Homo sapiens: one gene and its partners. The protein of the gene in region 1 purifies or fractionates together with the protein of each later gene. This does not show direct contact. Each region holds a gene or a part of one and is shown in the gene's direction. Other genes may lie near its edges.

The links.
Region 2: the proteins of SQLE (region 1) and SLC18A2 purify together in Homo sapiens (co-immunoprecipitation; one large-scale study listed by IntAct). This does not show direct contact.
Region 3: the proteins of SQLE (region 1) and GPR107 purify together in Homo sapiens (co-immunoprecipitation; one large-scale study listed by IntAct). This does not show direct contact.

The regions. Positions count from the first base shown.
Region 1 is NC_000008.11:125,001,422-125,005,080, forward strand, and holds part of SQLE (squalene monooxygenase), read left to right. Parts: intron 1-1,754; coding exon 1,755-2,007; intron 2,008-3,659. UniProt on the Homo sapiens protein: Catalyzes the stereospecific oxidation of squalene to (S)-2,3-epoxysqualene, and is considered to be a rate-limiting enzyme in steroid biosynthesis.
Region 2 is NC_000010.11:117,268,585-117,272,243, forward strand, and holds part of SLC18A2 (synaptic vesicular amine transporter), read left to right. Parts: intron 1-1,486; coding exon 1,487-1,606; intron 1,607-1,745; coding exon 1,746-1,879; intron 1,880-3,659. UniProt on the Homo sapiens protein: Electrogenic antiporter that exchanges one cationic monoamine with two intravesicular protons across the membrane of secretory and synaptic vesicles.
Region 3 is NC_000009.12:130,060,286-130,063,944, forward strand, and holds part of GPR107 (protein GPR107 isoform 3 precursor), read left to right. Parts: intron 1-3,659. UniProt on the Homo sapiens protein: Has been proposed to act as a receptor for neuronostatin, a peptide derived from the somatostatin/SST precursor.

The DNA.
Region 1 (3,659 bases):
TGTTTTCCTCCAGAGCTCTCCTTTCAGGGTGTGTGTGTGTGTGTGTGTGTGTGTGTGTGTGTGTGTGTATATAAAACAGGAAAAACTTATGAAGAAGCACATTTTTGGTTAAGATGACAAAAGGGGCTTGTCTTGCCCCCTACAGTAATTTAAATATAGTCAGTTCTGGCCATTAAGACATACTAATGGGAAGAGTAGAATATTGAGATCTTCCCATAGTAAAAGGACAGAAAAGTATTTTTCTGAGAGAAATTAAAAAAAAAAAAAGAATAGACAAATTCCCAGTCCACTATAGAGGTAAAAGAATGCTGGGTGGATATTAGAATCACAGAGTAAAGTTCTAAAGGATTTTAGGCTTCGTCTTCCTTTTTGCTTGATTATTTTTTAAAAACCCCTTCAAATGGCATTTAGTCTTATCTTAATCATTAAGGTCAAAGAACTCAAGGAAGGTGGTTCCTTGCAATTCTGTATCTGAAATGTATTCAAATGTGTGAATCCATCTACCAAGAAGAAATACTACAAAATTGAATTGTTCATTTTAAAAAGCCACTGTGCACTGTTGTTCTTAGTGGTCATAAATCTCTCAAAACAAGACTTTGCATCTTTTTATGATCAAAGTTAAAGTTTTGCTGTCAGTTCAGCCAGTGACAGGTTTAATGTTTTTCCTTGTTCCTTTTTTGGGGACCACCTCTTTGACTAGGATCTCTTAGAGTATCAGGATGGGGAAAAAGGAGGGATAAATTAAATATGTGCTTATATGTTAAGGACCAAAATTGTAAACAAGTCAAATCTAAGAGTCGGTATGAGTTATTTCTTCTCTTGTAATTTTGTTTATTTAGATAATCTTCAATTAATAGATTGGTAGGCAGGATTTGACAATCCTTTTGTCATATAAAAGTGATATTAAATTAACATAGATTTTTCAAATGAAAATCCAGAAAGAGAAAATAAAGATGAATAATGAAAATATCTAAGGCCGCACGCAGTGGCTCACGCCTGTAATCCCAGCACTTTGGGAGGCTGAGGCAGGAGGATCACCTGAGGTCGGGAGTTCAAGACCAGCCTGACCAACATGGAGAAGCCCAGTCTCTACTAAAAATACAAAATTAGCCGGGCATGGTTGCACATGCCTATAATCCCAGCCACTCGGGAGGCTGAGGCCAGAGAATTGCTTGAATCCAGGAGGCGGACGTTGCAGTGATCCGAGATTGCGCCATTGCACTCCAGCCTGGGCAACAAGAGTGAAACTCAGTCTCAAACAAACAAACAAAAAAACAAACAAAAAAAAGAAAATGTCTAAAAGGTGCCGAATAGTTTGTAACATGAACTCAAATCAGAAGTTGTAAGTGATTTGCATCTTGTCGATTCCCAGGATATATTTGAAGAATTTAGTTATTAATGATACAGTTTGCCCTATAATAAGTCTTTGAAGCCCCTTATAAACATTTATTATATTCGGCCCAGTGTGGATTTCTAAATATGTCTGTATAACATTTTCCAAATATCATGTTTAGAAAACAATAAATATTTAATTTTATTGGGATAATATGACACACTTTTATTTAACGAATATTTTGATATCATTGATTTTTATATATTATCTAGATTTTAAAATGTAACAATTTGTTTGGTTTGATAATATTTAGTATCTAGCTTTAGCCTAGGATGCAAAAGTCCAGTGTGTCCACATAGCGGTAGCATGATTTGAATCTAACAAATTTGGATACCTAGTTTACCTTTTTTTTTTTAAACAGCGCAGAAAAGGAACCAATATTTCAGAAACAAGCTTAATAGGAACAGCTGCCTGTACATCAACATCTTCTCAGAATGACCCAGAAGTTATCATCGTGGGAGCTGGCGTGCTTGGCTCTGCTTTGGCAGCTGTGCTTTCCAGAGATGGAAGAAAGGTGACAGTCATTGAGAGAGACTTAAAAGAGCCTGACAGAATAGTTGGAGAATTCCTGCAGCCGGGTGGTTATCATGTTCTCAAAGACCTTGGTCTTGGAGGTAGGTTCATATTGATTTTCAGGAGAGTTACGTGGTATGAACAAGCACTCTTCACTTAGACCATCCTATGACCAGTAAGAAGGTATTCCATTTTATTTTCATTTATAAAATTTTCTATACTCATTTACCAACAAATTTGCATGAAAGTGAGAGCAAAGGATAAAATAAGCATTTAATAGTATGATTAGATGTGAATTAGACTTAATGAGATATAATAAAATGGCCAAAAGATTGTAATGGTCAAAATTAAGGACTGGAAAATCCTAGAATGAGGGCATTAAATTTTGTGAAAGGCGAAGGGAACTGTCATTTGTAGAGGGTATGTTGTATACTTGTTACAGTGTTATTACTTAGAATCTTTTATTTAAGCACCATTCATCCATTCAACCAGTGCTTTTTAAGCACTGGCTATTCATTTAGGAAATATTTATGCACTGTCTACTTTGTGTGGGGATGGGGTGGTGGGGTGGGGTGGGGTGGGGAAGGTGGGAGAGACACAAAGAAGCAAGCCCTCCCCTGTCTTTTTTTCCAAGGGCACTAATCCTATCGTGAGAGTCTACCCTCATGACCTAATCACCTTCTAAAGGCTCCATCTCCAAATATCATCACATTGGGGATTAGAGTTTTAGCTTAGGAATTTTGGGAGGACACAGACATCCAGTCAATACCATATTTGAACATTTTATGTCACTAATATATATACTAGAGTCCACTTTTTCACTTGACAGAAACATATTTCCAATACTGTTAACCATTCTTTATCAGTATCTTTTTAAGCCCAAGCATAGTTGTTTTTCAGTTGACTTCATAATGTACTTCACTTTTCAAACTTAGATGAATGTTTAGGTTATTTTCAGTTATCCTTTTTTAGGTAACACTATAGTGAACCTATTCTTGCATGTAACTTTAAAGATTATTAAATATTATGTCTTTAGGATGAATTTCTTACATGGATTTCCAAGAGTAAGATTATTACATCGAAGGATGCTAATTTCTTCATGGTTCTTGATAATTATTGTTATATTTTCTAAAATATAATATTAGTTCATAGTATCACCAGTAGTATATGAATTTATCAGTTTTATCATAATCTCATCAGTGATTTTGATGGTGTCCTGTTGTTTCAATTTTTACTTAATTTTTTTTATCGTTTGAACATTTTTTCTGATTTGTTCACTGTTTCTATATTGCTTTATATGAATCATCCATACATGTTTTTGTCCATTACTATTGGCGTCTTAATATTTTTCCAGTGGTTTTTAATGAGTAAATTTTATTATATATACATGTATTAATCTTTTGTTCTATTTCATATGTCTTTCCCAAAGTATTGTTTTAGTTTTTATTTTTAAAATTAATTTTTTAACTTTCTAATTTTCGGTTGGCACTTTAAAAATGTGATATTTTCTATTGAAAGTTTTTTATTTTTCAACTGCTTTTGCTGCTTTAGATTTAAGAAAGAAGTTTTTACATGATTCTGATGAATTCAGTGTTTTGTTTGCTGCCATTTAAATTATTTGATGTACTAAAAAGTTCTTTGCAGTTTGTCCTGAGTCACTTTTAATGGATAGTATGTAATCATCAACAGTTGGGGGATAACTCTACCCTTTCCATTTGGTTTGGAAAATCTACTTTTTCATATATTCAGTCAT
Region 2 (3,659 bases), on another chromosome or scaffold:
CCCTGGCCTGCATCCTTTTGGTGCTTCCCTGCTTTGCTGTTTTCTGGTTCACTTGTCCCTCACCACTCAGCACACCTGCATGCCTGACCCACCTCCTGCCAGTCACACCTGGGCCACACGCTTAGACTATGGGTGTTTCCAAGGTGGAGAATAATAGGGGGGACCAGAACGCCCCAGAACTCCAAGGAGTCCGAGAGATCATCTGGCCCTGCTCAGAAATTATGTGTGTGTATGTATGTTTATGTGTGTGTGTGTGTGTATGCATGTGTATCCATGTATGTGTGTGTTGTGTGTATGAGTGTGTATGTGTGTGTTGTGTGTATGTGTGTGAACTAAAAGAAGCTAAAACACACATGCACACACATACATACACATACACACTCATACACAAACACACACATTCATACACACAAACACACATACACACACTGACACACGCATACACACACACATACACACATACACCCCCCACATAAACACATACACATACACAAATATACATACACACATATGCATACATACATACACGTAGATACACATACACATACAAACACCCACCCACATACATATGCACACATACACACATACATATACACACATACACACACACCTACACACATACACATACACACACATACACAAATACAAGTACATACACAAACACATATACACAGACACATACACATGCAAACACATGTACACACATATATACACATACATACACAGATACATATATACATATACATAATACACATACACACATGCATACACACATATACATAGACATACACAGATACATATATACATATACATACATACTCATAAATACACACATATACATACAGACATACACCCCAGCAACAACCACGACCAGCATTAGAATCTCGTCTCTTGAATAGTGGGGAGCAGGTAGCATAAAGATGGTGTGTGTTCAGAGTTCCTGGCTCAGACTCCCTGGCTCAGTGAGTGTGGTCAAGCCTCGCCTCTCTGAGTATTGGTTTCCTCATCTATAAAATGGGGATGCTCATGATTGGCTGCTGTGAGCCAGTGTCTGTGAACACACTGGCAGGGACTCAGAGGTTGGTGCCCTCCCCTCCACATGTGTCAGTGGCAGGCACATGAGGAAAGTTTCTTTCATTGAAATGGTGCTTGCTGCTTCCTAATATGTACAAGTGCTGGGGATATGGGTGAACAAAACCAACAGAAGAGTTGGGCATTTAGCAAAGAATTGAAGAATGAATGACAATTGAGATGATGCTGTGAGAGAACATCTGTATACGAGGGGAACCTGACCTCCTCTGGGGGTCAGAAAAGGCTTCCTTCATTCTTTCTACTCAAAGATTAGTATCACCCCAAGACTTGCAGGTGGTGATGACAGAAGGGGAAGAGCTGGCAGGGTGGTGAGTTTAAGACACACTCCCTGATATTCGGCCCATTTTGGGTTTACATCCGTTTTCTATACACTGTGTTCCCTGACTGTCTTCAGGAATGGTGGATTCGTCAATGATGCCTATCATGGGCTACCTCGTAGACCTGCGGCACGTGTCCGTCTATGGGAGTGTGTACGCCATTGCGGATGTGGCATTTTGTATGGGGTATGCTATAGGTAAGGACATTGGCTTTTCATAAGAACCTTTTACCTCAATACGTAATGGATAACGTCTACTAAAATTGTTTAAATCTTTGCATCTTTCAGTCTACAAGACATTTGGAAGAGCTTTATCTAATTCTCTGTTTCCTGAAAGGTCCTTCTGCTGGTGGTGCTATTGCAAAGGCAATTGGATTTCCATGGCTCATGACAATTATTGGGATAATTGATATTCTTTTTGCCCCTCTCTGCTTTTTTCTTCGAAGTCCACCTGCCAAAGAAGAAAAAATGGTAAGAAAAATTTAGGATGCAGTGAGCATTTCTTGATAATTTTAGCATGGCCTTCCTGATAGCTTCCTCATGGTTTCATTCTAAAGCCTTCAAACATAAATGGTGAGAATTCCTTTTTAGTTTGTACCACATAGAGCAGTTACTTCTTTTATTTTTTTATTACTGTGAAAGTTATTTCTTTCAAGCTTATGTTTATAAACTGGGAGAATGAAATTATTTTTGTACATAGATTAGCATCAGTGTTGCTCTTTTGTCGACCAAGTATAAACCTGGAATCATTCAATTTGATTTTCTATGGTTCTTGAAAATCTTGGACACAATCTTTCTGCCTCCTGTACTTATGCCCAAGGTTAGCCATTTGTGGTGCTGTTGCTTTTCTCATAACCCTTACAGCATTCAGTAATAGTTGCTGTCTTGTCTTTACTGTATGTAGGATTTTAGAGATGATTTTACGATTTTTATGGAAAAATCATTGTATATGGACTTTGGGGTATATGTGAACACACAGAACGATTTAATTCATAACTTTATGACCAAAATTATAGCCATAGGCAAGATACAGAGTATAAAGCATCCCTCTTTTGAAAAAGTCCAAATTAATTGATTCAAAATTTGAATTTTGAAATGCATGAGTCATTTTAACCTTTCTAAGGTATTTACCTTACCCAGCAAGGAGACGCTCAGTGTTTCTGATCATCTTTCTTATCTGGTGTTGCCAGTTTTTAAAACAGCAAATGCTGATAGGTACTTGTCCAGGTGAAAGGAGAGTGTCTTGGATTAAGGATGAATGAGGTGAACAAGAGGACATGCATTTTTGTGTTTGAATAGATGTGAGGTTTGTTTGTAATGTTCTCTTGGAAGTACATCAGAAGGTCTTTCTGACAGTGGAACTGAATGCATCTTAATGCTTTGGCATTTCCTGAACTGCCCTTTGATGCTTTTCCCCAAAAGGAGATTTAAAGACAAACCTTAAAATAAGGTTATGTGCAGCCTGTGTTTGTCTTGGGTGTTTTTTACATTCATTAATTCATTCCACATATTTTAAAATATATCAAGCACTGGGCACTGGCCTTGTGCCCTTTATTTTAAATAGGATTTAACTAGATACTTTTGAGTAATGCATGGCCCGTCTGACTCATGGAAAAGGTATGGAAGGTGCTGTGGAAATAACTCAGACAGAAGCCATCCCCTTGTCCTTCCCTCCGCTTGCTTAGATGCTTCCCCAGCTCTGAAAACCACATCACCTTCTCAGACCTCTCTTAGGAGACATCTGCTTTCCAGCTTGGGTGTGTAAATTTCAGATGCATCTTTGCTTGGCTGACCCTAGCATAATACCTTGCCGAAATGGAGTCAGAAAATTCTCAGCACAAATGCAAACTGCCATTCTGTTGCCATGATAACAGTTTAAGGCTGAATGGAGGTTACTCAATGTTTTTGACCAAAAAAAGTATATATGTGTGTATATGTGTTTGTGTGTGTCTGTGTGTGTGTGTATAAAATCACCTACAAATGCTCCTGTAGCCCAGGAAACTGTTTGAAGACTCCTGGGAGATAGTTAGGGCTAGCATGGGCCTGGGAGCCACACTGGCCCCACCATGTAGAGGCTTATGAGTCTTGGTTTCCTCCTCTGTTGCATGGAGAAATGATAACGTCTACCTCATAGGATTGTTGTGAGGATTAAATGAAAGAATCCCAACAGAGTGACTGGCCCTGTGGCTCAAAAAGTGTGTTCCTATTTCCAATATCACCCCACTCTTTCCTGCTTATCTAACTCTCTGGC
Region 3 (3,659 bases), on another chromosome or scaffold:
CTCCTGACCTCAGATGTTCTGCCCACTTTGGCCTCCCGAAGTGCTGGGATTACAGGTGTGAGGCACCGCGCCCAGCCTATCCATTTCTTATTAATGGAATAAAAATGATAATCCGAGTTTTTTTTTTTTTTTTTTTTTTTTGAGATAAGGTCTCATTGTGTTGCCCTGGCTGGAGTACAGTGGCTATTCACCAGTGCAAACATAGTGCACGATAGCCTCCAACTCCTGGGCTCAAGCCATCTTCCCGTTTCAGCCTCCAAAGTAGCTAAGACTACAGATGCTTGCCACTGTGCTCGGCTAATCTGAGTTTTACATCAAAAATTGTCTAAATATGATTTTTATATTGTGTTAAAAACACAATATTTTGATGACTGATCATTCTGGCTTTCAAGTAGATGCTGCAAATGAGCAAGTGGACAGGAAGTGCTTTGCTAAAGCCTCAGAAATTTGGGCATTTCTTGGGTTTGATACTTCTATGATAATTATCCACAAATTATAACTCAAATACTCTAGACTTTGTGTCAGCAGCTTAGCAAGGCATGTAGTTTAGAGCAGAACTTGGGAATAGCCAGTCCTCACTGCTGTCGAGTGCAGTGTAACTTCTGGGCTAGTCATATTAGAAGCCTTCCTCGCTGATGGGATCTAGACTAGAAGATGTTGGATGAAAAGATAAGTTAAAGCAGAACATCACACAAAAGGAGTATGCACCTGAAACTTTATTTTGACTTAAAATCTGCCAATATACATTCATTGACTTAAATGAGTGACATTAAGCTTACTGGATGACTTCGCAACACATGCCTTCTGTCTCTTACTCATTCAACAAATACTCTTCAGGTGTCTTTTATATACCGGGTGGGCACTTCTAGACACAGGCTGAGGCAGTGAGCGGGACTAAGCCCCGACCTTTGTGGAGTATTCATTCTAGTGGTAATGGACAGCTAGCTTCTAAACACCTGAATGCACAAGTAATTTAAAAATGGGATAAATTGATGAGAAAATAAAACAGTATTGGAACCAAGAGTAATGGAATTGGAAATTACTGTGGAGAGAGACTCTGAAGAGTTAATATGTGAGTGGACTTAATGAATGAGCCAGGCATTTGAGGGTCTAGGGAAGAATATCACAGGCAGAGGAACAGGAAGTGCAAAGTCCCTGAGTGGGAGCATCTTCATGTTCCCATGTCTATGGAGGCCCCTATGGCTGGAGCAGAGTGATCTAGGGGAGAGGTACACATGAGCCTGGAGGCCATGGTAGGATGTGTGGATTTTATTCTGCGTGATGAGGAACCTGCCCTGGTTTTTGGCATAGGGAAGTAGTTTCCTGAAGAAGTGACATTAAAGCTGAGACTGGAAGAGTAAGAATTAGCCAGGGCAGGCCGGGCGTGGTGGCTCACGCCTGTAATCCCAGCACTTTGAGAGGCCAAAGTGGGCAGATCCCCTGAGGTCAGGAGTTCAAAACCTGCTTGGCCAACATGGTGAAATACTTTCTCTGTTAAAAATACAAAAATTAGCCGGGCATGGTGATGGGCACCTGTAATCCCAGCTACTCGGGAGGCTGAGGCAGGAGAACCACTTGAACCTGGTAGGCCAGTGAGGCCAGTGAGCCGAGATTGCACCACTGCACTCCAGCCTGGGTGACAGGGTGAGACTCTGTCTCAAAAAAAAAAGCATTAGCCAAGGCAAAATGAGGTTAGAGCTTATGTCTGGAAGAGGAAGTGAAAGAGATTGATTGTTCGTGTGCCACTCGGATTCTTAGTTTCCTACTTTGTAAAATAAGGATAATGGTAGCTTTCCCACAGGGTAGTTATGAGGATTAGATAAAATTATGTAAAATAATAGCACTGAGGCTGGGTACGGTGGCTCACACCTGTAATCCCAGCACTTTAGGAGGCCAAGGCGGGTAGATCACCTGAGGTCGGGTTTGAGACCAGCCTGGCCAACATGGTAAAACCCCATCTCTACTAAAAATACAAAAAATTAGCCGGCGTGGTGGCGCATGCCTGTAATCCCAGCTACTCGGGAGGCTGCGGCAAGAGAATTGCTTGAACCTGGGAGGCGGAGGTTGCAGTGAGCTGAGATTGCGCTATTGCACTCCAGCCTGGGTGACAAGAGCAAGACCCTGTCTCGAAAATGATAATAATAATAATAATAATAATAATAATAATAATAATAGCACTGAGTAGTAGACTGATCTAAGTAGTAGTTCATTCATTCAACGTTTATTAAATACCTACTATGTGCTAGGCACTAGAGATATACAAATGAGACAGGCCCATAGACAGGTAGTTATGATATAGCATGGTGGCTCTTTCGCCTGCCTGCCTGCCTGCCTGCCTTCCTGCCTTCCTGCCTGCCTGCCTGCCTGCCTGCCTGCCTTCCTTCCTTCCTTCCTTCCTTCCTTCCTTCCTTCCTTCCGTTTGTCTGTCCATCCGTCTTTTATTTTTTTTTAAATAAGAGTGTCTCACTCTGTCACCCAGCCTAGAACTCAGTGGTGCAATCATAGCTCACTGCAGCCTCAAACGTTTGGGCTCAAGGGATCCTCCTGCCTCAGCCTGCCTGCCTAGTAGCTAGTACTACAGGTGCACACCACCACATCTGACTAATTTTTTTATGTGGATATTTTGTAGAGATGGGGTCTTGCTACTTTGTCCAGGCTGGTCTTGAACTCCTGGTCTCAAGCACTCCTACCACCTTGGTCCTGAACTCTTTATGAGAGGATAAGACAGGGAAGATTTGGTTATTTTAATACCAATGTCTGGCGTATTTGAACTAGAATGACTCCTAACCTCAGTGTACACTGTAAATGATCTTTTTTAAACAGACATTTCAGGGTTTCATCTCTTTTAAGTGTGAATATCTATTAAGCAGCTGCTCTTTAGCATGTGTGTATACATAAAAATATAACATGCTTTTTTTTTTTTGAGACGGAGTCTCGCTCTGTCGCCCAGGCTGGAGTGCAATGGCATGATCTCAGCTCACTGCAAGCTCCACTTCCCGGGTTCATGCCATTCCCCTGCCTCAGCCTCCCGAGTAGCTGGGACTACAGGCGTTTGCCACCACATCCGGCAAATTTTTTGTATTTTTAGTAGAGACAGGGTTTCACCGTGTTAGCCAGGATGGTCTCAATCTCCTGACCTCATGATCTGCCCGCCTTGGCCTCCCAAAGTGCTGGGATTACAGGCATGAGCCACCGTACCCGGCTATAACATGCTTTTTAAATTATTTAAAATTTTTTTCAGTTTTTAATTATTTTTTCCTATTATTTGTTTTTCTTCTTTATTCAAGTTTCCACACTCCACATCAAACATGCCTTTTTTAGTGACTGCTGTTTGGTGGCATGTATGCCAGTGTGCTTCCTTCTGAAAATACCAGTGTAGTATAATAAAATATTTGATTGCTGGGGTTTCTTAATAAAACAGCCCTGGGAAATTCCAGTGATTGCTTTGTCTTTTTTTTTCTTTTTCCTTTGTATTGCTTCCCTTTACTACTACTGTATAGATTTTTTTCTTCATGGAGTTTATTCTTTTTTTTTTTTTTTTGAGGGTCATACTCTGTCACCCAGGCTGGAATGCAGTGGCACGATCTCGGCTCACTGCAGCCTCTATCTCCCAGATTCAAGTGAATCTCTTGCCTCAGCCTCCCAAGTAGCTGGGACTA